Linked DNA regions of Homo sapiens. The protein of the gene in region 3 interacts with the protein of the main gene of each other region in a biochemical or structural test. Each region holds a gene or a part of one and is shown on either strand. Other genes may lie near its edges. The genes, in order: AFAP1, RASGRP3, PRKCD and DAB2.

Region 1 (7,000 bases), on a different chromosome or scaffold from region 3:
CGGCTCTGTTCTCAGCAGGACCGTTATAATAGCTTCAGGCCACAACGGTCAACTTGGTGTCAGGACCTAGACACACCAAAAATCCTAACAAATAAAGAGGCCATGTATGCAGCATGCTGGTTAAAAGCACAGGCTTCGGAGTCAGAGCTTGAATTCTTATTATGTGACCTTGAGCAAGTTACTCAATGCATCAATCTCATTTTGTCACCGGCAAAATGAGGACATTATCTGCCACACAGTGTTGCTGAAAAAGTAAGAGAGGTGACACACAAAGTGCTTGGCACTTACTTACTCTTATGGTTTATTACAAAGAATAGAACACGGGAACAGCCAAATGCAAGAGACGCACAGGGCACACCACGGGGCAGGGAGGTCGGGGCTCCCATGCCCCTGGGAGTGCCACCTCCCCAGCACCAAATGAGTTCGCCAAACCAGAAGCTCTCCAAACCCAATATTTAGAGGGTTTTATGGAGTTTTCATAACATAGACATGATTAAGTCATTGGCCACCGGTGGCTAGCTCAATCTCTCATTGGCCACCGGTGGCTAGCTCAATCTCCAGCCCATCTCGTCTCCCCTCCCCGGAGGTAGGGGTAGGGCTGGTATGTCCAACTCTTTAATCATACCTCGGTCTTTCTGGCAACCAGCCCTAATCCTGAACCTGTCTAGGGGCCCAAAGCCACCTGTCATCTCATTATCATACAAAAGACACTCCTATCACTCCAGAGATTCCAAAAGTCTTAGAAGCTCTTGTGTCAGGAATTGAAACCTAAGACCAAATATTATAACCAATGATGTTCCTATCAGGAAATTACAAGGGTTTTAGAAGCTCTGGGCCAAAAACCAGGATGAATACTAAATATATACACTATTGTACTATGTATCCCACTATCACAATAATTTTTTTTGAGACAGAGTCTACCTCTGTTGCCCAGGCTGGAGTGCAGTGGTGCAATCTCAGCTCACTGCAACCTCCACCTCCCAGGTTCAAGCAATTCTTGTGCCTCACCCTCCTGAGTAGCTGAGACTACAGGTGTGCAACACTACAACCGACTAATTTTTGTATTTTTTAGTAGAGACGAGGTTTCACTGTGTTGGCCAGGCTGGCCTCCAACTCCTGGCCTCAAGTGATCTGCCTGCCTCGGCCTCCCAAAAATCTGGGATAAGTCATGAGCTACCGTGCCTGGCCTCACTATCACAATAATTATACTGAGAGGATAGGGGAGAAAAACGTGGGCAACAGGAGGAGCGGGGAGGGTAAGCCACCTGAGTCCTTGTCTTCCACAGGACATCTCCCTGTCTTTCACACAATCTAGAAGAATGAGCTAAAACATAAACGCAGTAACCTCCAAGGAACAGGGATCAGGGTGGAAAAGGGTAAGGTAGGGAATTGCTGGGTTTTGTTCTAAGCCTTGTTAATTTCTGACTCTTAGAACTGTATGCCTGTACACCTTTGCTAAAAATGAGTATTTAATTTTTAAACAAAATCTGATACTTGACCAACAAGAATAGTATATTAAGTGATATGGTTTTTTGTTTTTGTTTTTCAGAGAGAGGGTCTTGCTCTGTTGCTCAGGCTGGAGTGCTGTGGTGCAATTGTAGCTTACTGCAGCCTCAAATTATTGGGATCAGGTGATCAACCTCCTGAGTAGCTAGAATCACAGGTGTGCACCACCACGCCCAGCATTTTTTTTTTTTTTTGGTAGAGGTGGAGGTCTCGCTATGTTGCCTAGGATGGTCTTGAACTGCTGACCTCAGTGGATCCTACTGCCTCAGCCTCCCTAAGTGCTGGGATTACGGGTGTGAGCCACCACACCAGGACCAAGTGGTGTGTTCTAAAATTTTCTGGAATGCAACCACTTTGAAAATGTATGGAGAGCTATAAATCATCTCCCCATAAACACACATGGATGCATATACACAAAATTTTTGCACAGGATTTTGAGGAGTTCATAAATTTCTGAAAGCCAGGTTAAAAACCTTAGGATTATAGATTCTGGTTTCTTTTTCTTTTTTTTGAGACGGAGTCTCACTTTGTCGCCCAGGCTGGAGTGCAGTGGCGCGATCTTGGCTCACTGCAAGCTCCACCTCCAGGGTCCACGCCATTCTCCTGCCTCAGCCTCCTGAGTAGCTGGGACTACAGGCACCCGCCACCATGCCCGGCTAATTTTTTGTATTTTTTAGTAGAGATGGGGTTTCACCATAACCAGGATGGTCTCGATCTCCTGACCTCGTGATCCACCCTCCTAGGCCTCCCAAAGTCTTGGATTACAGGTGTGAGCCACCACGCCTGGCCCTAGATTCTGGTTTCTTAAAGGAAATGTATTTCAAGTCAGAGCTTGTCATTTATTGCACAGGAAAAAAAACTTCATAAAAAAAAATCAAAAACACCCACATGATAAAACGAGGTCCTGCTTGGTTTTAAACTACTTGGTGACCACCATCAGTTGTTTTCTTGACCACAGGATGCACCTAATTCCTAACTATTAATAAAGGTACAAACATTGTTTATTGGGCTTTTTGCTTCAGCCTTGAAACAATCAGATTCTCTAAAACTCAGGAATGTGAATCGCTGTTGGGTTGATTCAGCTGTTTCCATTCTAGAAATGGACCTGGAATCATGTACTTTTCACCCCATGAAGAGTTCTTTGTGTAAAACTTGAAAAGGCAAGGTCCCAAATTCCCCATATGGGTGTTTCTTCCAATAGAGGAATTACTCTAATGACTTCTTAGCAAAACTTATGTAATCAGGGCAGGCCATCAAAATACTCCAAAACACAAAGTTTAGCTCCATTTCTGAAGGACCTGTCTCCACTGCTATAAACCTCACCAACAGCCTCACATCAAGTCAGAGGAACAGATTTTCCATTTAAGAAGGATCTTCATGGCAGTGGCTCACGCCTGTAATTCCAGCATTTTGGAAGGCCAAGGCCGGCAGATCATAAGGTCAGGAGTTTTTGACCAGCCTCGCCAACACAGTGAAACCCTGTCTCTACAAAAAATACAAAAATTAGCCAGGCTTGGTGGCACGTGCCTGTAGTCCCAGCTACTCAGGAGGCTGAGGCAGGAGAATCCCTTGAACCTGGGAGGTGGAAGTTGTGGTGAGCCGAGATCGCGCCACTGCACTCCAGCCTGGGCAACAGAGTGAGACTCCCTCTCAAAAAAAAAAAAAAAAAAAAAGGGGGGGGATCTTCACGTTCCTGACGATTTGCAAAAAAAAATTGGTATCTGTTAACCAGAGGCATTGAAAACCACCTCCCAGGCTGCTGTAGTAAGTGGATTGGTAACCGCGGTGGGAGATTCTAACCCCCGAGACCTGTGACTACGTCACACGGCATGGCCAAAGGGCTTTGCCACAGGCCTTAGGAAGAGTATCCTGGGCTAACCAGGGAGGTCCAATCTAATCCCATGAGCCTTTAAGAGCACAGAACTGGCCGAGCACGGTGGCTCACGCCTGTAATCACAGCACTTTGGGAGGCCAAGTTGGGCCGATCACGAGGTCAAGAGATCGAGACCATCCTGGCCAACATGGTGAAACCCCATCTCTACTAAAAATACAAAAATTAGTCGGGCACAGTGGCAAGCACCTGTAATCCCAGCTACTCAGGAGGCTGAGGCAGGAGAATCACTTGAACCCCAGAGGCAGACGTTGCAGTGAGCTGTGATCACACCACTGCACTCCAGCCTGGGCAACAGTGCGAGACTCCGTCTCAAAAAAAATATTTAAAAAAAGGGTATAGAACTTTCTCTGAGTGAAGAAGAGAAATGCGCCCAGGGGAATTGGAGGGCCTGACCAGGTCCCTGGCCTAGCTAGTCCTGAGCTGATGGGACCACATGCAAAGACCAGATAGAGGCCTCAGGAGCTGAGGACAGCCCCCAACAGATGGCCAGCAAGGGGACACCTCAGTCCTGCAACCACAAGGAACTATATTTGGCCAAAAGTGCTTGGAAACAATTCTCCAGTGAGGAATGCAGCCCAGCCCACATGGTGATTTTTGCCCAGTGACACCCACGTCAGACTTCTACCCCACAGAACTGTGAGATGATACAATTTCAATTATTTTAAGCCACTAAATTTGTGGAAATGTGTTAAAGCAGCAACAGAAATGAATATAGTGATTTACGTGGAAATCCCTAGCGGAGTGTCTGGCACGGTGTTGACATCTGACAAGCGTTTCCTGATTTCCTTACATCCAAAGGCAGGGCTGGCCACACTCCATCCAAAACAACAGATGATAGACTTGTTCTGACAGAACAGATACAGTGAATTATAAATGGCCCAGAACACCTACAAATTTTAGGTTTCAGGTAAGTGATTGCCTTTCCTTTCACTTAGAAACCTCCCAATGCTTGTCTTACTGATAAGCTCTAAGTACCACACAGAAGACTAAACACCAGACTAACCCGGCTCCAGATGCCCCGAGGGAGCCCAACCCAGCACTCACTCTGCTGCACTGAAATGATGTCCAGGTCGGTTTTTCCCACTGGACCACGAACTCCAGCTCTCCACGTGTGAGTCACGAGTCCCACTTCTGCATCTCTGCTTCTAGAACGGTGCCCCTGCACTTCACAGGAAATCTGTATCCGTGTTTGTCAACACTATATATGACAGTATAACTTAGTATGTGCACAGAAAACATAAATTCTTCGAGGACCAGGGCCGGGTTTATTAGCCTTTGTACTCCCACTACCACTGTCTGGGATATCAGGGGCACTCAGGAGAAGTTGGTGACGAGAAAGAAAAGGCAGAGGAGAGAGAGGAAAGCAGGCCCGACACCGCACACACAGCTTCTGAGGTGGCTGGAGGAGAGGCAGGTGCAGAGAAACTTCCTGGGTGCTGGACTGGGGTTCACTGTGATGCTGCTGCTGGATTTCAAATGTCAAAATGTGATGCTTTGCTGACCTTGACCTCTGACTGCCCTTTAGTTTTCCCAGCCTCAAGACAGGGCACTTAGAAACTGCAATGTCAAGAAATTACGCTTCGCTAAAGCATGGGAATGCTATTTACGTGGACATTCATTACTTCATTTTTTACACGGGAATGTAAATAATTGAAGAGATTGTTAAAGACTAAATCATGCACATTCAATACCTTTGCAAAATATTAATGATAACTGAAACACAAATTTGATGTTCCCCAAAAATGCTAAAATATAAAACAATACTGGCCAATTAAAGATAGAAAAAACCCTAATCAAGCTCCCCAACAGACACATTAAGACTTCTCTGTACATTAAACATTTGGGATTTCAAAGGAAAACTCAGATTCATTCCATTCTTAATGGGTTTTTTTTTAAATCTTAGGTAATACAATATTTTATTTAAAATTTACAAAATTCCATTACATTCATGATTTCATTTGATCCTCAAAACAATCTCCTGAGTTAGGCAGAACAGGTGTTACTAGCAATTAACTCCATTTTACAGGTAAGGGAACTGAAGTTCAGAAAAGTACTTGGACTTAACAAAAGCTTTAGTAGGGCCACATATCGAATTCCAGTCCTCTGCTAAAAAGAACTAAAGTTATCTTTCACATTTTATTCATACTTATATCCTGTCAATATCCAAAACTGTTTTGAGGTAGCCTGAAATAATAGACACCTATACAATAAAAACATTAAAATGAAAAACAGAAAATAAAACAGCAGGTGACATGGGAGAGAGAGGAAGGTAGACAGCAAAGACTTGAGACTTATAATCTAAGAAAACTTCATCTCTGACCTTCCAGTTCCAGGCAGATAATACTAAAGGGAACAAGATGGCTTACAGACTCATAAGCTGACAAAAGAGAAGTCGCATCAGTCCTTACTATGAAACACTCCTAGCAGCCACAGCAAATCTCTAGGATACAATACCAATGGCATCAAAGCAAGGGTATACTTCAGTGATAGAGCGAATTAAGTTCCCTGTTTGGGACCCCGGCCAGGGCTAGAGAAAAGAACTCTGAAATGCAGAGCTCAAAAATATATCCTCTGTGTTCTCCATACCCATGCATCCCCTCCCTTTCATTTAATCCACATAAAAATCAAGCCTGCTGTAAATGAAAAACACCTCGACACAGAAGCAGAATTAACTAGTTAAGTTTTATTAAAACATTAATAAAATCTAGAAAACCATAAAGAAAATCTGGTCGCGTTTTGAAGCCCTCTCCTAAGATCACATTCCCCAAAAGAACAAAGTACATGGAGCATATAACAAAGAACTTTTCCTAAATTAAGAATGCAAATCAAAATACAGGCAAAATCCTACTGAGTGAAGCAAAAATTGTAATTCAGTAGCTCACGACTTGACCAAATGGCTATTTTTAATCCCTATAATCATCCAAATAACTAGGAATAGCAGAGAAAATTGTGTCTCCTTTCTACAGAGACACGTGGCTTTAACAAACTCAGGCACATCCAATTCCCACCTTACCAAACAGATAAATTGGAAAGGAGCTTAATATTTTATTTTTAAACTATTTATTTACCTTTTTATTTTTTACAGAAAGGGTTTCACTCCGTCACCCAGACTGGAGTGCAGTAGCATGATTATAGCTCACTGCAGTCTCTAATCTTGGGCTCAAGTGATCCTCCTACCTCAGTCTCCCAAAGTGCTGGCATTACAGGTGTAAACCACAGCACCTGGCCTTACTGTTTGAAAGAATTAATTACCATATTCCTTAGAACTATAGCTCCTCTATAGGTCATTCAACATGTGATGCAATTTTTTACAAGCGGTAATTTTTTTTTTTTTTTTTGAGATGGAGTCTCACTCTGTCACCCAGGCTGGAGTGCAGTGGTACAATATCGGCTCACTGCAATCTCTGCCTCCCAGGTTCAAGTAATTCTCCTGCCTCAGCTTCCCGAGTAGCTGGGACAACAGGCATGTGCCACCACACCCGGCTAACTTTTTGTATTTTTAGTGGAGATAGGGTTTCACCGTGTTAGCCAGGATGGTCTCCATCTTCTAACCTCGTGATCTGCCTGCCTCGGCCTCCCAAAGTGTTGGGATTACAGGCG
Region 2 (7,267 bases), on a different chromosome or scaffold from region 3:
AAAACATACATTGAGATCAGAGACAGGCTTTTTGGAGGCAAGGTGATTAATTAGGAAATCACCGCAGACCTTCAGTAATAAATCAGAACATATGAGGGGCGGTAAGAGTGCAAGATGAGAAGAGAGGATTTTCACACCTAAGGGGCAGATAGCGGAAGAGAAGCCCAGACCTGAGGATGAAGGAGGTAGTAGTAAAATTTTATAGACGCCATGGGAGAGCTTTTCAAGGGGTGGTTGGTCAGTTGGGACAAATAGAGCCAAAAGGTCAAGTAAGATGGCTCACGCCTGTAATCCCAGCACTTTGGGAGGCTGAGGCGGGCAGATCACGAGGTCAGGTGTTCGGGACCATCCTGGCCAACATGGTGAAACCCCGTCTCTACTAAAAACATGAAAATTGCCGGGCGCGGTGGGTCACGCCTATAATCCCAGCACTTTGGTGACAGAGCAAGACTCCGTCTCAAAAAAAAAAAAAAAAAAGCAAAAAGTGTCGGTTGCCTTTGGTCTTTGGGGACTTGGAAAGAGCAGTTTCAGTGAAGTGAGGGAAAAAAAGCCAAGCCACAAGTAGGTTGAGAGTAAATGGGATGTGAGATGGTGAAGACAAGTATTTTTTCAGGAGTTTAGTTGTGGAGGGAATGCAGGAGTTAGGGCAGTAATTAAAAGAGCAAGTCTGGCTGGGGGCAGTGGCTCACGCCTGTAATCCCAGCACTTTGGGAGGCCAAGGTGGGCAGATCATGAGGTCAGGAGATGGAGACCATCCTGGCTAACATGGTGAAACCCCATGTTACTACTAAAAATACATGTCTCTACTAAAAATACAAAAAATTAGCTGGGCGTGGTGGCGGGTGCCTATAGTCCCAGCTACTCAGGAGGCTGAGGCAGGAGAATGGCTTGAACCTGGGAGACGGAGCTTGCAGTGAGCCGAGATCGCGCCACCACACTCCAGCCTGGGCAACACAGTGAGACTCCGTCTCAAAAAAAAAAGCAAAAAATCAGAAAGACTGTTGTTAGGATATAAAGACAATGTGAGAACGTGAGCATGTTTAGCTAATGAGCGCACGCTGAGAGCAAGAGAAGGCGTGGTTGTTGTCGAGAGTCCTAAGCAGGTGGGAGACACAGGGTGAGACACAAAGCCGAGGTAGGAGGTGGCCTCTTGACAGGAAGAGGGCACCTCTTCTTGAGTCGAAGACAATGCTTGGAACTGGTAGGGAGTGTGGGCAGAAAGATGGGATCTCCCCCATTTCTTTGCAAGGCTGTGTTATTGTAGAACCTTTAGTCACACTCCTGGACTCTGACTGAAAGGGTCCTGGGTCTTGGCCTCTGTGTTAACAGTTTGCTTCATAGGGAGGATTGAGGATCCATCCCTTCCTCTCCTGGCTATAGAACTAGAAAAGAACCTCTACACCAGTGGTCCCTAATGTATTTGGCACCAGGGACCAGTTTCATGGAAGACAATTTTTCCATGGACCGGGAATGAGGGGATGGAGATGATTTCAGGATGAAACTGTTCCACCTCAGATCATCAGGCATTAGACTCTCATAAGGAGCATGCAGTGTAGATCCCTCGCGTGCACAGTTCACAATAGTGTTCATGCTCCTATGGGAATCTAATGCCACAGCTGATCTGACAGGAGGCAGAGCTCAGATGGTCATGCTCCCTTGACTGCTGCTCACCTCCTGCTGTGCAGCCTGGCCTCTAACAGACCATGGACAGGTACCTGTCCATGGCATGGGGGCTGGGGACTCCTGCTTTACACTTATGATGTAGTTTGGATGTTGTGCCCACCCAAATCTCATGTTGAGATGTAATTTCCAGTGTTGGAGGTGGAGCCTGGTGGGAAGTGATTGGATCTTAGGGGCAGATTTCTCATTAATGGTTTGGTACCATCCTGTTAGTGCTGTTCTCATGATAGTGAGTGAGTTCTTTTATTTATTTGTTTATTTTAAGACAGAGTCTCACTCTGTTGCCCAGGCTGGAGTGCAGTGCAGTGGTGCGGTCTTGATCTTGGCTCACTGCAACCTCTGCCTCCCAGGTTCAAGCACACCACCACGCCCGGCTAATTTTTGTATTTTTAGTAGAGACAGGGTTTTGCCATGTTGGCCAGGCTGGTCTCAAACTCCTGACCTCAGGTGATTCACCCTCCTCAGCCTCCCAAAGTGCTGGGATTATAGGCATGAGCCACAACACCCAGCTGATAGTGAGTTCTGGCAAGCGCTGGTCATTTAGAAGTGCCCCCTGTCTGTCTTGCTGCTGCTCTGGCCATGTGACTCATCTGCTCCCACTTTGCCTTCCACCATGATTGTAAGTTTCACGAGGCCTCCCCAGAAGCCGAACAGATGCCAGTATCATGCTTCCTCCATAGCCTGCAGAACCATGAACCAATTAAACCTCTTTTCTTTATAAATTACCCAGTCTCAAGTATTTATAGCAATGCAAGAATGGACTAATACAACTTAACTTTCCTGAGGCTGTTGTCGCTGTTGGGCATTGAAGAGTTTCTAGAAGTCCCTGTTTCTTTATGTGGCATGCAATGGATCATCAGAATAATTAACCCAGTCAATGGTAAACAAAGTGATGGATGGATGCCATCAGATCACAAAAGTTTCTATTACTGTAAATACAAGGGGGTAAGTAAATCAAAATAATGTTTCAAATCCTCAGTAGGCCTCTTTTTCTGTTTCTAATTGAAGATTGTCACATCAACACATAAACAAAAATGCCTGTGAGGGAAATGTGTATTTTATGCATTGCATTTTTATATCTGAAGTTTATTTCTATTACTAACTTGAAATGCTGAGGAAGGGATTTGTTTTGGTGCTTACAAAATTCTCCCATTTGCTCTTCGGACTCTCACAAGTTGACAACAAATTACTGCCCTGATAGTATGGTGAGACTGAGGGTTTTTTGTCTTTTTCTCTTATTCTAGAAAACACTGTATCCTCTATATGGAGGGAAATTTCTGGTTTGATTAACACTGTAAATAATTATGAGACAAAGCCTAAATATAAAAGATTACTCACACAGGCTCTTACACTGAGTAAGATATTATGTGTTAAAAATCAGGGTTAATAGTTTAACAGGCACATTATGGTTCAGAAATCCCCTGGGGGACTTCAACCATCTTTTCTGGATGTTCACTTTGCCAAATAGGCTGCCTCTATGTCATATCTCTACCTGAAGGGCAGGCTCAGACACTGATTCGGGGAAGTGTCACCCTTACTATACCAAGAAGTCAGACATCCAAGGTCAGACACTACGTAAAGTCAGATACTTCAAGGGCTTTCCTTGGAAGGGAGGATGAAAAGGGAAGGGTGGGAACATCAGCTCAGGTGAGACATATGAATTCAACAAAACATCAGGGATGGTTTGCCACGTTTGCGAGCAGCACAGAAAACGGCAGTTTGCTCCAAGTTCCCAGCACACCAAAGGGGGCAGTAGTGCGTCTGTAAAGCGCGTTGTCAACTTGGTGATAATTTCTGTTTGCATTCACACTCGCCGGCTGATAATCTCAGCTGCTCGATGCAATTCAACAGATAACAATGCGGAAGTTTGGTCTAAAGCTACCTGAAATCACTTCCAAGAGCTCTTCAGATAAAGCTGCCTTTGATAGTCTTCATTAACCCCTCCCATATTTGCCCCTCAGCGTCCCTTGGCTTAGCAGCCCCGGCCTTTGAAGTCCAACCTAAGCATTCTTAGATGGTGAGTGAGGGTCTGCCTTCCCCAGCACCAGCCACCTAGTCAGGCTTGTGGCTCGTCTAACAAACTGGAGCCTGAGATTCTGAGAAAACGAAACCAAACAGTTGTACTCCGGGGTTAACACAGAGCAACTTCCACCTGCTGTGCGAGTTGGTGATCCTCTCTCTTGCCGTTCGAGAGCCCCAGTGAAACTTGAGTGAGATGAGAGAGCATGGAGCCTGCCAGTCTCCCCCTCTGCGCACACACACACGCAAACACATTTAACTTTCCACTTGCAGTGACCTGCCCTTCAGTGTGACTTATCAGCTGTTTGGCTTTTGTCACTAAAGGAAAACAAATTGTGGAATATCCCGCTCTGCATGCTCATGAGATGGCTGAGCCAACTCAGGGGTTATGAGGTGGTTTGCGAGTGAGGAGAAGAATGATCTTCAGTTTCTGACCTCCTGGCACGGTGGCGGGCGGTATTTATCAGGAGGTACATGTGACTGGTTAAGACTCAGAGCCCCAGCTTGAAGGAAACAGCTGCTCTCGGCGTGCTCCGGCACTTGGCAGCTGGACAGGCAGAGTGCTGATGTGAAAAATACCACGACAAAACCACCCTAGTAAGTAACTGGAGAACTTTCCTCTCTCTCTCTCTCTTTCATTCCCTCTCCGTGTGTGTGTGTGTGTGTGTGTGTGTGTGTGTGTGTGTTGCAAGCCACCAACAACTTTTGATTTTGATTTTGGTTTCCCTCTGGCACGATAGAAGGAGATATTTTATTTGTACCTGTTAACAGCCATTGGTGTTTTCACAGCCCTTTTTTAGAACCTGTTATTTTCGGCAACGTGTCTTGTAACTTTGAGGATGAATGGGGCATATGGCTTCATTCCTGTCTAGGAAACAGAAAGTTTGTTTCCCAGTGTTCAAGATTTTTCTAGTCCATGGTGTTTAGGTTCAAAGTCAAGTTCAGGTTATGAAGTAGAGACTTCATTGAAGTGAGTTGATGACTAGATTTGATTTTAATCTGTTTCTACCACTGAAACCTGAAAACGTAGTTGTTTAAAGTAACTTGTGAATTTATTGTATGGCTGATTTGATTTTTCCTATTCAATTTTTGAGAATATCTCATTTAACTGTGTAGAACTGTCTGCAATATAGAAGACTGACAAAATAATATTTAGATTCACATTAGAAATCATATTTAGATTTCTTGCATGGTTTCCAACTAATTGAAAGCTGTATTTTATAGCGACTTTTTTTCCCCCCAACAAGCTAATTCACCTTCATTACTTTAAAATGTTCAGTTGCCCCTGGTCTTCCTTCACCTTCATTACTTTAAAATGTTCGGTTGCCGCTGGTCTTCCTTATTTTAGTGTTTTCGTGATACTCAGGCTGTTTTTTCCTTGTTTATGACCTGACTGGGAAAGTGCTGCCTGCAGCTGATGATTAACTCTGGGAGGCCTGGCATCCAAATTACGGAGAGAACCGGCTCCTTCTCAGGTTCATTCAGCAGTAATGGTGCTTGCGCTTGGGCGAGCAGCAAAGCAGGCACCATGCTGGAACTGAGCTGTTGTTCGGTGACTTTTGTCCTTCCTTGGTAGTCACCAGACAGAATGCTTCAGAGGAAAGGCAAAAGGGGAAAAGAGAGAGGGCAGAGCTCTAAACTGATGACGTAAAGCTCTGAAAGTGACAGGTCTTTGAATCAGAGGCTGCAGGGAGATAACCAAACAGGTTCCTGTTTCTGGAGATCGCGTGGATCTTGAGGAGGGTGGGCAGAGAGGGGCTGTTTTTATTTGAAGTCTCACCAAATAGTTGTTTTGCTTGTGATAAGCCTAGGACAACCTGGAGTGCGCTTGTTTCCTCGTGTGACAAATGGATTCTCATACAGGCTCAAGCTATACGGTTTTCTTTCGCCCTCTGCCCCCTGCCATGAGGGAACACTGTTCTCTCCCCACCCTTACCATCCTTTGTTGTTTGTGGAGAATGGATTAAAAATGACCCAGGGCACGGCACTTCTGCGATCGAGTTTCCCTCAGCACAGTGGGTCTTGAGTACCGCACCAACCAATGTTCTCTGATGGAAGCAGTTTCGGATGCCCTGTCTAAACAAATGGCTAGTCTGACATTGAGAAGTTCTCCACCTTCTTTTCCTTCAAATGTAGAAGAATCCACAAAATGTAGAGTGGCCAATGAGGAAAAATAGTCCCAACTTCTCTGTTCCTCGGTATGGCATTTGTGTGAGGTCCTTGGGTCAGCCCGCGGCCATGTGGTCTGTGACTTCCCTGTCTGACTGCTGGGGGAGGGGGTTCCTCCTGAGTCATTCTTTAGGGAGTTTGTTCCTGGTATAGTTTCAGATTTTCCACAGGTTGATAGTGGAAGAGAACCCTCTGGTGAAATTGTGTCTCCGGAATCATCGAGCCTCCCATAATAAAATGGAATGTCTAAATGGGAGCAGTTGAATTATCCAACTGCTGTATTTTTGAGAGCCAACAGGCTCCTTTGAAAAACCCATGCCTTTTCAAAATATTAATAGCAAAATAATAAAAAATAATGATTTTACTTGCAGATAGTACATCCATTGACTCAAAGACTTTTTGACCTGGATAGGAATGATAGAATGTGCGATTTAACTCTTTCGTATCAAAGATGAGGAAACTGTAGCAAATTTATCGGAGTTACGGTGCAGAGCCAGAAGAGAGAGCTCAAGGCTTCCATCATAATTTCAACGCTAATAACAATCCCTTACTTTTATTGTGCACTTACTCTGCCAAATGATGCGCTAAACAAGTGTATTTATTTTCATAGTCTCCTCACAATAACTCTATGTGTTACATATTATTATTCCAGTTCTATAGATAGGAAACTGAGGTTCTTGACCATACGTAACACAGACAGGAGGGACACCCTTAGTTACTTGACCATATGTAACACAGACAGGAGGGACACCTGGATCTGACTGTAGAACCTGTATACATTAAAAAATAAAAGTGGAATCCCACACATTTAAATGTAAAAACTCACAACATGCAAATGAGAGTATTTCCAGCACAATATGATTACACACACAATGTGTGTTATGCCCTTTTCGAGCTCTCCATGACAGGAAGGGCTAGGTTTCCCCCTGTGACAGTCCAAGCCCAAGCTCTCTCTATAGGATCGCTGGCTGGTGGCATGTTTTTCTCTTTGAAAATAGTTCAGTGACGGTCTTGATGTTGGTAAGAACAGCAACCGGGAACTTTGTTATTAACCTCCAGCACACGGCTCCCATGCCCCTTCTGGCCTTTCCCTCCAGTTTTCCTGTCACTCCTTTCCTTTGGAGGACAGCCACTCCACCCATGCCCCACCCCAAATAGCTGGCTTAGTGTTGATAAAGCTATTATCAGACCCATCCCCTTTGCTCAGCCTGGAAGGTTGGTTGTCCGAGTAGGTTGTTGATGAATAGAAACCATGCACTCTGCCACTCTGCGCTGTTTTTTTGAGCTGTGGGTGTAAGGGGTGGGTCACGGGGCAGGGGACTAGCTGGCAGTGGTGAGGGAGGAGAGGTATGCTTTTCTTCACTGCCTGCACCTGCCATTTACCCTGAGTCCTACTTCT
Region 3 (7,034 bases):
AATGCAGACTGGTCCATGGAGTCGATGAGGTTCTTGTCGCTGTAGGAGAGGCGCGCCTTCTCGTTCAGGAACTCCTGGTCAAAGTTACTGTAGTCTCTGGGTGACTTCTACAAGCAGAGGGCAGGGGTGAGCGAACAGGACCTAGGGAATGGCCCTCCAGACACCCCAGGCTGGAGTCCCTGCAGGGCTGGGCCAGGCCAGAGCTGTCCTCACCCAGAACAGAAGACAGAGCCTCCCCTAGCAGCCTGAAAGGAGCCCCATGGGAAGGAGGCTGCCATTTCCCCAAGAGGATGAGGAAAGTGACCAGGGAGCTCTGGGCCTGGGTTAGGAGAGGTGGTAGCCTCTTGCTCAGAGACCACCGAATCACAGCCCAGGGAGGCTCACTTACCACCTGTTTTTGTGGGGACCACAAGCTAAGAATGGCTTTCACATTTTTAAATGGTTGGAAAAAAAATCAAAAGAAAAATATTTCATGACATGAAAATTAGGTGAAATTCAAATTTCACTTTCCATAAATAAAGCTTTTGTAATACACAACCATGCCCATTTGTTGACATACTGTCTATGCCTGCTTTGAGACCATCAAGCCTGAAAAGCCTAAAATATATACTATCAGGCTGTTTACAGGAGAAATTTGCTGATTCTCTGCTCCTGAGGATATGATGGGATGGTAATATAGAAAGACCGCAAGCTGGTGGCCCTTCAGCCAAACTGAACTGGCAAGTACAATCATTTCGGCTTGTACTGGGTTTTAATGGAATTTGAACCTATATTTTATTTATTTATTTTTATTTATTTATTCATTTAGAGATGGAGTCTCACTCTCTTGCCCAGGCTGGAGTGCAGTGGCACGATCTCGGCTCACTGCAACCTCCACCTCCTGGGTTCAAGCGATTCTCCTGCCTCAGCCTCCTGAGTAGCTGGGATTACAGGTGTGCACCACCGTACCCGGCTAATTTTTTTTGTATTTTTTGTAGTAGAGACGGGGTTTCACCATGTTGGCCAGGCTGGTCTCGAACTCCTGACCTCAGGTGATCTGCCTGCCTCAGCCTCCCAAAGTGCTGGTGTGGGCCACTGTGCCCGGCCTGAACTTATATTTTAAAATTGAGCAATGCAACCTAAAAATCCAGATTTCCAGCTTCTTTTGAAAACTGGCAGATTAAAGCAGCCCTGGGCCCACTTCCTGCCCACTCTTGGTGCTAAGAGCCCCCTGGACAGCCCCTGCCCCACTGACAAGGGGTACATCACACCTGCTTTGTGTTTCTTAGTGCGGAGAAGGAAATCTATCAAAAGTGAGACTGAAAGCAGGCTGTGTGATTTTCTTGCAGCTGGCCTAGCCTGTCAGTTACATGCTCAGCCAGGACACGTCTGAGTTTGAGGTCCCTGGTGTAGGGGAAGTGCTCTGTAGCCTCAAAGCACAAATGTGGGGCGCATTACACAGGCTGCCCAGTGGGAACTGTGTGCCCTGGTGGAGGAGGGGAATCAAAGGACAGAAGGGGAGTGGGAAGGAAGAACTGTGGTCACAGAGGGGCCACACAGCCCCAAATTTCTTAGTGGCCCCACCTGCCTCTGCTCTCAGGCTGGTTCCTTGGTAGCCCTGTAGATTCTGGGCCTGTGAGTGAACCAGCCCCTCTTCCACCTGGAATGCCTCCCAGCTGTCCCTTGTCTCACTTCTTCCAACGGGGCCTCTCAGACCCACCCTCTTCTCTGCCACCTGGGTTCCTGCTGACAGACCCACTCAATAGCAACGGATCATGTGTCCTGGGGCATCTCTTATACTGTCATCTCGTATCACAAATTGTCATAGGTGTGCAAGTTTCTTATCTCTCCAACTAGCTGAGAGCTCCTCCGGTTCTGGGACTGCATCTCCCACTTTGCTGTGCAGCCCAGCACTGTGCTCTGCATTCAACAGGGACTCAGGATTCCCCATATGTATTGGAAAATGGATTGAATGGAGCGATAAAGTGAGGTCTTAACTCTATTTCCCAAAACAGGGTCCTCTGCATACAGTGGGATCCACAGTCCCCAGTGTGTGCTGAATGACTGAGTCAGGAGGGAGAGGATGAGAATACAAGGGCAGCGGCTGTGACTGAACATGCTATGGAGATTGCTGGAAGAAGGGAGAGGTGGAAAGCGTGTGAATGATGCAGGAGAGAGGGAGGGCAGGAGAGGAGTAGCTCAGCCTGAAGGCAGCACAGGGCAGGATCACATACCACTTTGGGCCTGAAAGGTGGCTCCAACCTCCGCTTTTCCAGCAGAGTCCAGTTTATGGTCTTGAAGAAGGGGTGGATTTTGATGTTTCCGGTCACTCCCAGCCTCTTGGTTGGTTCCCTTTCAAAGAGCTGCAACCCAGCAGGGACCCTGGTTAGCACCCAAGGGCCATGGGAAATTGGAGCTTCAGCAAATCCCCAGCAGGCCCAGGGATGCAAAGCCAGGCTTGCCCCAGCCCCAGTCAGCCTGGGGAACGGTGGGGCTGAGGGAGGCCACTCTGGCCTGCAGTGCTCCCAGCTCCCCCGGAGATGACAGGCTCTGGGCTGGACATCTGCGACTCTGCTGGTGGAACTTTTTATTATTTACTATCTGCCTGGCCCACAGCTGAGCATCATATGTTTCTATTTTCTTCCCAACAACTCTGTGAGTCAAGTCTGCTCATAGCCCCATTTTACAGATAAGGAGACAAACTCTGAGAGGTTAAGTGACCAGCTAGTCCCAGGCAGAGCCAGCATTTGGCCTCGGGTCTGTCTCCTGACCCTGGGCCCTTAGTCACCATGTCAGGCTGATTCTATGCACAGGACTCAGACAGGAGTTCCTGGGAACATGGTGAGAGAGCAATACCCCGTATGTTAGGACTGCAGCACCACTGAGGCTGCCATTCCAGAGACAGGAAGCTCCTCACCCAAAGCCCAGTGTCTGCCAGCCCCTGCCCCAGCCCAGCCCAGACCAGCCCAGCCCAGCCCAGGGCCTCCACCTTCTCCAGGATGTCCTTGGACTCCTTGGTGATCCAGCGGGGATAATGTGGCGTGTCCACACGGATGGACTCGAAGAGTTCATCCTCATCATCACCATGGAAGGGGGACTGGCCAATGAGCATCTCGTACAGAAGGACCCCGAAAGACCACCAGTCCACAGAGAATGTGTACTTCAGGCCCTGTAGGATCTGGCGGTGGGGAGAGCAGCAGGTCAGCAGGAGCTGAGGTGCTGAGGCTGAGAGGGGCCCCTGGGCACGAAGCCTAGCCAGGCCGCCTCAGCCTATGGGCTTTGGCTTGGACATCACTGCCCTTGGGAATCCTTCCCTGGCCCACCGTGGGGAGGCAAGGTGCCTGACTGAGCGGGGGGCTGGAAGGGTATCGGCTCACCTCAGGGGCGATATAGTCAGGGGTGCCGCAGAAGGTGCTGGCCCGGCTCTCCCCGAATATGTTCTCTTTGCACATCCCAAAGTCGGCAATCTTGATGTGGCCATCCCGGTCCAGCAGCACATTGTCCAGTTTGAGGTCCCTAAGGACAGGGGACAGGTAAGAGTCAGCAGGGGACATTTCTTCTCCTTCCAACCCTGCCCCCCATGTCCTAATTTTCAGCCGTATTAGTCCAGGACTGTCCCCAAGGGTACAAGGGAATGAGAAACAGAAAAGGAAGCAGAAGGAGAAAGAGATCCTAAAAACAGGTGCTTCTTGCAAGTCCCCTACTGTGTGCTAAACGCTGGGCATACACTGCCCTACTTCCTGAAGCCCAAATGGGGCTCAAACAGGTGATGTCACTCGCCCAGGGTCCCCTAGCAGTCAGCAGCAGAAGTGACCCCCAGGTTCAGGTTTGTCTACTTCCCACAGGCAGAGACCATGTCTATATTTAGTAATTAGTCATTTGAGTATATACTTAATGCATATGGGAACTAGAAATGGCAAACAGTACAAAGTCTACCTTCCACTGAGCTCAATCATGAGGCTCTCCTTAGAGCAATTCTAGGCGTGGACAAGCATATGGCAGCATGCAGCTCGCTCCCACCTTTTTTTTTTTTTTTTTTTTTTTTTTTGAGACACAGTCTCATTCTGTCACACAGGCTGGAGTGCAGTGGCATGATCTCAGCTCACTGCAACCTCCGCCTCCCGGGTTCAAGCAATTCTCCTGCCTCAGCCTCCTGAGTAGCTGAGATTACAGGCATCCACCACCATGCCCAGCTAACTTTTGTATTTTTTAGTAGAGACAGGGTTTCACCATGTTGGTCAGGCTGGTCTCGAACTCCTGACCTCGGGTGATCTGCCCACCTTGGCCTCCCAAAGTGCTGGGATTACAGGCGTGAGCCATCGCGCTCAGTCTCCCTCCCACGTTTTAAAGGCTGAATGCTAATATTCGATATACACTTTCCCACAGGTTGTTTTTCCACTTAACAACATATCTTGGCATTATCCCACATCAGTATACAGAGCCTGACCTCAGCCTTTTTGGTGGGTGTACAGTTCCCACCATAGGATGGAATCATAACTTATTAGATGAGACTTTATGGAAGGAGTCCCTTCTGGCAGAAGCTTAGATGACTCGATGGGGCTTCAGAGCGAGACTGACGGCTCCAAGGATGGGTGGGGCGATGGTGTCAAATATGAGCAGTGAGTTCCTAGTTCCTGAAGCTGAGCCAGCCTCAAATGGTGGCCACAGGAATGCTAACACCAGGGTGGGAGGCATAGGCAAATACCCAGCTAAAGATTGATTTCCAGCAGAGAAGGAACTGGAGTTGGGGGGATCCTGCTTGGAGCATTTCAGAAGATATGATGGGGCTGGAGCCTCCCCTCCCAAGAGCCCCCGCTGCCCTCACCCCCGCACCTGTAAATGATGCCCTTGCTGTGTAGAAACTGCAGTCCACACATTATCTCAGCGGCATAAAACCTGGGCAAGAGAGAGGGATAAAGTGTTCCGGGATCTCTGCCGAGCAGCCTCTGCTTCTCCTCGGGCCCTCAACCCCACTTCCAGGAGCAAGAAATGCTGCAAATAACTCCATGGACCACCTGAGCATGATCAAGTACATCTTGTATCAGGCAAGTGGGGGCTGGCAGCCCAGGCAGAAAGTTCTGAAGGGAAAGCTCTCAGTGAGCCAATTCTCTAAGAGTGTATGCATTTACATGCATGTACATATGTGTTTGCATGCATGCACACACACACACACACATACACGGTTAGTTTGGGGTAAGGGGCATGTGAATGGGGAGAAGCAGGTCTGGGGGCCACGCACCAGGGTCCTGTGTCCTGTGTCATGCAGGACCACCATTTGCAAGGCTGCCCTGGCTGTGGCCCACGGAGCGGCCAGGACCCAGAGTATTTGCGCTGCGCACCCAGCCGCAGTTCACTTGCCACCCATGGCTTCCTGTGTGGTGCCGACCCAGGCTACCCCCACATCTCCCCAGTTGCCGCTCTAGCCCAGGCTGGCTTTTCTAGGGAGAGGGAAGAAGGCATGGAGGGCAGACTGGAAGTGGGCTCTGAGCCAGTAGCCCTTCCTCCACACTGGGCCCTTCCCCACCATGGCCCTTACGTACGTGGCACGGTAGAGTTCAAAGCGGCCTTTGTCCTGGATGTGGTACATCAGGTCCCCCCCGTTGAGGAACTCCATCACAAAGAACAGGTGGTCCTGGGGTGGGAAGGGTGGTGAGCAGGGGTGAGGAATAGGCAGGAGGCTCCCTCACTGAGGGCCACTGGGGCCAAGCCCCAACAGGAAACAGCAGGGACAGGCCCTGGCTGAGGTGGACGACTCTGCCCTGGGAGGCATGAGGGGGGAAAGCATGGCCCTGCCTTAAGTGGCCTGAAGGGGAGACACAGCCCTGACTGAGGGGGGCTGAGGAGCTGTGGGACATGGCTGTGGCATGGGGTGGTGACGGCAGGAGGCCCGGGCACCTTGGTCTGGAAGGTGCAGATGAGGTGGGTGAGAAAGGGATTCTCTGCGGCAAGTGTCAGCACCCGCTTCTCAACCATGGTGCACTCCACGTCGTCGTCGATCAGGACCACATCCTTCTTGAGGGCCTTGATGGCAAAGTACTCTCCTCTGCCCTTCAGCTCTCCAAGCAGCACCTGATGGGGAGACACGGGTGCTGAGCAGGTGAGGACGGGGCAGGGGCCACAGCCCGATTCACAGACTCCCACCTCAGCCACCTAAGCGGGAAGAAGCCAGGGTGGGGTGGGAAGCAGGTGCCCGGCTCACAGCCCTCACCTTCCCGAAGCTGCCTTTGCCCAGGACCTTGTGGAAGATGAAGTTGTTGATGTTGCACTTGCTGCTGCCCTCCCAGATCTTGCCGTAGGTCCCACTGTTGTCTGCCCGAGAGATGGCACCTCCTCAGATCGGGGTCTCAGTCTACACAACTCCCCTCCCCCGGGGCCTGGGGTAGGCTGGGGGAAGGGGCCTCAGAGAGGAAGGGGCTCGCTCCCCAGGACCGGTGGTTCCTTCCATGTCTCACTTGACAATGGAAGGGAGGACAGTCCCCTTTCTTTGGCCTCAGGGGGAATAAAAACCGTAATGGGGCAATGGACCCAGCTTCACCTTGCATGTCCTCCCCAGCAACTCCGGTCTTCTTCTCGAAACCCTGATATATCCCAACAGGCTCTGAGGAGGCTGAGTCTGATCTCCGGGAGGCTCTCTGGGGAGGGAGCAGAGGTGGGGGGCCAGATGGTCAGACCATTATCAGAACTCCCAGCCCAGAAGGAAGACTCCCAGGTATAACTCCACCCTTAACACCAAGAGGAGACAACAGGGGCACAGCCCAGGCCCCCTACTCGGGCTGCGTGTACACACACGCACTCTTCCAGGAGCCCAGAGAAGCCTTGGTGGTCTGAAAGGCTCTGATTACAAACAGAAGTTTTGTAAACGGAACCCTACCTTCCCAACCACTCACTCGATAGATTTTATTTGACTATTTAGCTTCATTTCTGATTGATTCTAAAATTTTACCTTTAGGTTTTGTGGCATCCCTCAAGCCCCCCCCACATACAAACGTCCACACCCAAAGTCTTAGTTCAAAGTGTTCCAACACCCACTCCTGTGGTCCCCAGGTTCACCCTCA
Region 4 (7,034 bases), on a different chromosome or scaffold from region 3:
AATAAATAAACAGTTATAGGGTCCAGCTGTATTTTCAGGCTGACTTGTTAAATATTGGCTGCAAAAATTCTTAAGGGCATTGATATCAGATAAAAAGCTCTGTGATGTGATCTCGCTGCAGACATTGCATTGCAAGCACTCTGGTCTTCTGTGAGGGAAGGGTACCAACCAGCTCCACTTGGGGGTGCAAGGAAAAGAGCAACGCAGAAAGGGGGAAGCCCCCAAGAGACATGAAGTCTTTAGAGAGAGCCTCTTGATGGGGTAAATGCGAGCAGAGACCTGGGACAAGCTGGCTTTTCATACCCTCACGGATTTCTGCCACTCAGCAGTTGAGTAACAGTCCTCCTCTGGCCACCCTATTCTAGATATGATTAAACAGATTTCTTGTAAAAGAACCAAACTATTTTCCTTTGTAGGAAAACAACAGAGACAGAGAGGAAAACAAAACAAGGATCCTGATGACTGACTGCAGGAGGCAGAGAAAGCCAGGATCCCTGGTCAGATTTTACCGAAGGAGAGGAGAGTCCTTCCTCGTCTACAGTCCTCCACCTCCCAAGCCAGAGTCCATTTGGAGTTTGTAGAGGTGCCAAGAGAAGAAAAATAGAGTCCATAGCAGGACAGCAAAAACTATTGTCAGGGTTTCTGAAAACTGTACCATGGAGTCTGAAAAGAACTATAGGCTATGGACTAAGAATAGCAAGGCCAGCCCTCAGTCAAGTGGACTTTCCCACTGTCCTACCACAGAGTGATCAGCGGCTCACACAAGCTAATGACACATTTAGGAATTAAGAGCGTCAATGCATACTAGCTGTCTGATAAAATTCCATCTCTTCCCTTATTTCTCTCTTTTTTCAACTTTGGCTTTCTAGGACTTATGTTCTAGCTTCAGTAAAACACTCAAGCTAGCCAAAATATTGGCAAGGAGCTCCTATGGCAGAAGTGCTCAGAGACTGATCAGGATGTGTGCCTGATCTACCCTTACCATACACCTAGGAACACAGCTGGGCCCAGAACCTAGGACTTTCACTCTATGACTTATTCTTGCTTCAGACTTAACTTACATCCTTCTTGGGCATATATTCCTTCTAAGAGGGCTATGTGTTGAAAGGACATAGGCCTTCGATCTATTATGGCAAAAGACATGGAAGACATGCATGTTGACAGACAAGCCTCTCTTATGTCAACCCTGTTTTGCTACTGAAGCTGGTCTGAGTTTAGAATCCCTTACAATTGTCTTTCAGGAAACCATGACCAGTTGGTTCAAGTAAGTACAATACTGAAAATGAATTTCTTGTCTCATGCTGCCTCGAGGAGCCAAATGTGAGTTACAAGTCAAGAATATCAAATGGATGTGGGGTTGTATAGTAGAAGTGGGAGAAGGGCTCCCTGGGATGCTCAAATCTTATGCTGTAAAACCCTCTGGGAGTATGAAATCTCTTCCGATGCATCATCATTTTATGAGCAAAAGCAAAAGAGTCATACTTAATTTTATCTCTAGGCACCTACCTAGACCCACCAGGGGCCCCACTGGGGCAGGAGCACTTGTTTTGAAGAGATCCAGAGGGTTGGGCTGCAGGGCTGTAGGTTGTCCTGTGGGTGACGCCTGGCCTGAAGGTTCTGAGACGGGAGGAGCAAAGATGTCTGATGCAAGCAAGTCATTGGCTGAAGACTGACAGGACAGGGAGGGAGGGAGAAGCCTTAGTTACTCACTAACAGTGAAATACAGCCTCATTTTGTCTCCTACCCTATACCCCAATTTGAGAGCCACAAAAAGGAAAACTTTTTTCTTGACAGATGAACAACAACAACTACTACTACAGAAAAAGAGTCCTCCAAAAAAAGACACAGATTCCTACAACGGACGGACTACTGAGTCTTAGTGTCTGACACTACCTAGGACTTGCAAAGTGAAATCTACTATATTCCTTTACACACTCACATTGGTCTGGTCTCATCGCTAAATGCTTGAAGTTGGGGGAGCAAGTGTGTAAAAGGGGCAACTACCAATAAGCATCCTAAATATTTTTGTTCATTCCATTGGATTTTAAGTCAGTCTACATAGAGATCATAGGGTCTTAATCCAGGCAAGCCTGTATATTCTTAGGAGAGGTAAAAAAAGACACCTATGGGAACTGCATTTTAAATTGCTCTTAAATAAAGCTGAGATCATAGTGGTAATAGTAAATACATAAGCTTAGAAAAAGCTTATGTATTTACTCAGTATTTAAAAGAGGAGATAAGCTCGAGAATTTTATACCACCACCATGGACACTGATGCAACATGATGGGTGTGCAGGGCATGTGTTAGTGTCAGGGAAGTACAAAGGGAATCACAAGAACTCTCACCCTCCCAACCCAGAACACGATGATCAAACTTACCAGAGGTATAGAAGCATAGCAGCATTAAAAATGGAAAAACTTGTGTTTAGTTTAATCATAAGTGACAAGACATGCACACGGAAAGCAGGGTGTGAAAAACACTGCTGAGAAGCTTAAAAACGGTGGCAGTTAGAGGAAAGTACTCCTGGAGAACCAAAGTGCCTTATCCCACCTTCTATTTCACAGCAACACAGGAAACTACGAGAGCAGCAGGAAAGAGAGCTTGCATCACACCACCCTTTGGTACCGAACATGCACTCTGCTAATGGATATGTGGAGAAGACAATTCACCTTAGCAGTCCTTCTGCCTCTTCCTGGTTTGGTACTTTGTGGAGGTGGGATAATGGCTATGGAGTCATGTGGTGAGGACTGGACAGAGCTTTCCAAGTCCTGCTTTACGCCATTCTGTATGGACAGTCCTTTGGGAGGGCTTCCCACAAAAGGGTTCGGGGAGGATTTGACAGAGAAGCCGTTCTGTTCTCTTTCAGATACCCCATTTTGAGTTCTCACTGCTGGCTGGGTTTGCGAACTTGAAAAGGGCCATGGGCCTGCCTGAGCTTCCTGTTTGCCAGTCCGGTTAGAGATCTGGTCAAATTGCTGACCAAAGTAGTCAACATCACCATTCAGGGGCCCATTACTCAGCGGAGTAGACGAGCTACTCGAATTCTCTTTCTTCTGATCTGGAGATTTGAGAGAATCAAACGAAGAAGGTGTCGATTGGTCTGGCTGTGTGAAAGGATCGTCACGGAAAGGATCAGGATTAGGGGTGGGAAAGAAGTTGAGATTGGCAGAAAAGGCATTTTCAGGCAAGAAGGATGCCTGAGGCGTTGGTCGAGGAAGAGAACAGGAGGTGATGCCGTTTGTTAAGAATGGATTTTCTCTTAAAGAATTCTGATTGGTGTCGATTTCAGAGTTTAGATCCACTAACAGGATATCTTTGCTTTCCTATCACATTTGGAAAGAAAAAAAAAGAAAGTGTTAGTCCATGTTGTGACTTCAAATGAGAAAATTACATAAGATGACTAGGATTATCAGAATTTCCATTTGAATTTGGTCTTGATAAATCGGTTGATCATTACCTCCTTCCATCAACCCCCGTAGTCCATTACTCCCTAGCTATAGACTAGGTCCTTTCTATTCCTCCCCAATATCATGCCCTTTTATTTAAGTCTCAACCTCATTAGGTGAAATCTTACTGTTGCTTACTTCATGTCTCTGCTCACCCTGGTTCACACATACAGACTGGCTTAATTCATTATGAGCATTGTTTCAATTTGTGACTTTGAAAGTCTTAAAGGGAATTGATTGTGAGTCACTATAAATGATTATCAAAGTATGTTGAGCTTGAAAGTAAGTGATTTCAGAAGCTTAGCTCAGCTTCCTACCTATACACATACAGTCCTCTCTATTGTACCCCCAGAGTCATGTAGGATCATCTCTCTAAATGAGAAAATTCATCGACTAATACATTCATATTTTATAGTTCTGGCTGTGATGAAATTTAAGATCAAATGCATTTCCCTAAAATCGGTCCAGTTCTTTCCTCTAGAGGTGGGAGAGAGGCTTTTCTTTTATATCACGGCCTTCAGGTATGTCTCTTAATATTTAAGGCTCTTGCTGAAGCTGATAGTCAAGTAGGATCTCATCCTCATCATCCCAGTCTCTCCTCTGGGCTTACCCTTTTTGTCTATGTCCTCTGAAAGAGACACTCAATACTGATCTAATTTAGTCAATCACACATTAAGATCTCCTATTTGTACATCTTTTCATAACATTGCTTAGAGTTGCCTGTGTTGTGACAGTAATCTCATCTATTTAGTGGTTAAAGTCAACCAACAACTGATCTTTAATTTATATACAGTAGTCCCTCCTTATCCTCAGGGAATATGTTCCAAGGCCCACAGTGGATGTCTGAAATGGCACATAGTGCCAAAACCTATATACAGTATTTTTCTCATATACATACACATGATAAAGTTTAATTTATCAATTAGGCACAATAAGAGATTAACAAGTAATAAAATAGAATGATTATAACAATATGCTGTAATAAAAGTTATTTGAATGTGGTCTCTCTGTCTCTCTTCTCTCAAAATATTATATTGTACCGTACTCACTTATTTTCAGACCAAGGTTGACCACAGACTTAATTTCAGAAAGTGAAACTGCAGATAAAGGGGGACTATTGTACAAGGTAGAGACATGGGTTTAAGAGTTAATTTGAAAGACATATCAAATATGTAGCTCTACTAATTCTATCCCCTCTCTATCATTTCTCTGGTGTGTTAATTTTTTGGATTTTCAACTGTTTGATAAAAAATTCTCAGCTTAAAAGCAGTAAATTTGATGAATCCGACATGTCTTTATTCCAGTAAAAGACAGAATTATAACTCATCCTAGAACAGAACTTTCATACTGACATCACTTCCTTCTGCTTGACTTTGATCCATTAAATACTTAACTATGCTACCCAGAGAAGAATATAAATGATAAAAAATGCCTTGCTGAAGTGCAAGTTATAGTAGTTATCTTGCATTACCCTGAGCAGAATACTAAATATTTTGATCATTGGGGAAAATAAACAACTTCAAGGGAATATAAAATTTGCAAACTAGTAAATACAAAAGGGTTCAAATAGAACTCCTTGGCTTTTAAAAGAAAAAAAAATACCCAATTGTTTAGAAAGTTTAAGTCCTATTTCATGGCCACAAAAGAGACAGCAAAATCAGACCTAAATGGTAATCTATCTTTTGGATTCCTTTACTGTGAGGCATAAAAATACAGTTTTTATAAGCCAAAGCCAGGCTTTCTCTTTATAAAAGAAGAATTTGTCACAAGAAAGAGCTTATAATTAAAAAAAAATTTAATCAGAGAAATGGATTGGAAGAGCTATTAATCTAGGGATCTTTATACAATCAAAAGGTAGGATAAAATGTATTACAAAAGCTTGTGATTTCAATATTTATTTATTTGTTTTGAGCCACCTCTGGGTTAGAACAGTTGAGTGTTCACAGCTGGTAGAGTTCTCGTTTTCAAATACTTCAGAAGAAGTTCTTAGGACACCAAACAGGAGCCACAATGTTAGACTTCTGAATAGTCACCCTATAAGTAAAATGTATAAGGCTCTCCTCAGGCTGGGTTTGTTATTAATCCAAGATTAAAAGTGTAGTTCACAGACTACAACTGAGAGCCCAAAGACTCCTCATCCACCCACTTGGTCAGCGCCTCATTCATTCTTTGTCGAACTGTCAACACTGCCTCCAGTTGGCCACTGTTTGAGCACCTGAGCCGCACGCACTGGAGACACGGCAGTGCGTTACAGAACCTGCTCGTAGGGAGCTCCAGTAATCGGACATAAATCCTGAGTTCCATAGCCTAGCTCTTCTCTGGGTGGCTAATCTCACCTAACCATTCCAGTTTGTCAGACTGAGGACTTCTCTACTCAAAGCCTTAAGTGGCTTACTGCTGGCTCCCTATATTAAAATAAACCTCCTTAGGCCAAATTTCCAAATGATCCACAATAAGACCCACGTTGTTTCTAGCCCAACTATGATCTATTTTCCTACACACTTCAAAGACCCAACTCAAATTCAGATTCTTTACAAAGCTTTTAGCATCGATTTTTCTGTCTGCACTTGCCCTGTGCCCACCCGTGTTATCTTATGGCATGTACACAAGGACATAAGTGACACTCCTGCTTTGTATCCTGATCCCATCCCTTGTACCAGATTTAATCTCCTTGATCACAGATCATGTCTTATATTCTTTCCATAGTAACTGTGCTTTCAAGTGGTTGTTAAAGTTGCAGAACATGGGTTTTTATGTTTTTCTTTCTTTTCCTTTTTTGAGATGCAGTGTGGAAGGATAATGCTCAAGGGGCTTGCCAATAAAAATTCTGTTCTAGGGGATACCACATAGTTTGCAACATGAGCATTATTTGAAACTCATAAAACTTTTCTGTATAAATTTGAGGGGAGTGACAACCATCTAGGACCAATAATAAAGTCTAGGTAATTTAGATTTCTTTCTCTCTTTACATATTTCAGAGCAATTGTTGAAAGAGTTGAATATTTTTAAACATGCTGGCTTTACCAAGTAGAGATAAATCTATTTTTGACCTATGACTATAGAGTCAATAGATAAGAACATGTCAAAGCCTAACCAGCACATAATTAGATCTGTTAGCCTTCTTTTGGTTATCAGAGAGTATATATTTTGATGGTATTTATTACTTTATTGTTAGTTTAACTAAAACTTGAATTCCTATAAATAAAAAATTCTTAGACTTCATAAAGTCTAATAAAAATGAGACTGAAGATTATCCATGTTGTTTTCCATTTCCTTTTTTAGAACATTCTAGAAGTCTACAGAAGTAGATTATATAGGCAGTACTTCCTTGCCTATTCCAGTGGAATTCCACTTCATATCTTGAGTGCTTTGCTCTCTTTGAATATTACTTGTTTGAATGTCATTTATACTTGGGAAGTAAGTGTTCAGATACTGATTTATTTGAGAAAACATCACTAATGGAGGAGAGCACAAAGTTGACTACAAATCAAAAGGACCTCAGAGTTAGGATGGACCTGTCAGGATAATCTAGTCTAGTACTTTAAAAAGTTTATCCTCAGAACTATAACAAAAATTATGAAGAATGA

The links.
Region 1: the proteins of PRKCD (region 3) and AFAP1 form a complex in vitro, tested with the Homo sapiens proteins (one study listed by BioGRID).
Region 2: of the proteins of PRKCD (region 3) and RASGRP3, one has a biochemical effect on the other in vitro, tested with the Homo sapiens proteins (one study listed by BioGRID).
Region 4: of the proteins of PRKCD (region 3) and DAB2, one has a biochemical effect on the other in vitro, tested with the Homo sapiens proteins (one study listed by BioGRID).

The regions. Positions count from the first base shown.
Region 1 is NC_000004.12:7,929,862-7,936,861, forward strand, and holds part of AFAP1 (actin filament-associated protein 1), read right to left. Parts: intron 1-7,000. UniProt on the Homo sapiens protein: Can cross-link actin filaments into both network and bundle structures. May modulate changes in actin filament integrity and induce lamellipodia formation.
Region 2 is NC_000002.12:33,472,412-33,479,678, forward strand, and holds the start of RASGRP3 (ras guanyl-releasing protein 3), read left to right. Parts: upstream 1-4,237; 5' UTR 4,238-4,296; intron 4,297-7,267. UniProt on the Homo sapiens protein: Guanine nucleotide exchange factor (GEF) for Ras and Rap1.
Region 3 is NC_000003.12:53,185,181-53,192,214, reverse strand, and holds part of PRKCD (protein kinase C delta type), read right to left. Parts: intron 6,612-7,034; coding exon 6,515-6,611; intron 6,289-6,514; coding exon 6,188-6,288; intron 6,049-6,187; coding exon 5,875-6,048; intron 5,612-5,874; coding exon 5,520-5,611; intron 4,876-5,519; coding exon 4,813-4,875; intron 3,496-4,812; coding exon 3,357-3,495; intron 3,158-3,356; coding exon 2,969-3,157; intron 2,343-2,968; coding exon 2,214-2,342; intron 108-2,213; coding exon 1-107.
Region 4 is NC_000005.10:39,379,948-39,386,981, forward strand, and holds part of DAB2 (disabled homolog 2), read right to left. Parts: intron 3,325-7,034; coding exon 2,671-3,324; intron 1,670-2,670; coding exon 1,507-1,669; intron 1-1,506. UniProt on the Homo sapiens protein: Adapter protein that functions as a clathrin-associated sorting protein (CLASP) required for clathrin-mediated endocytosis of selected cargo proteins.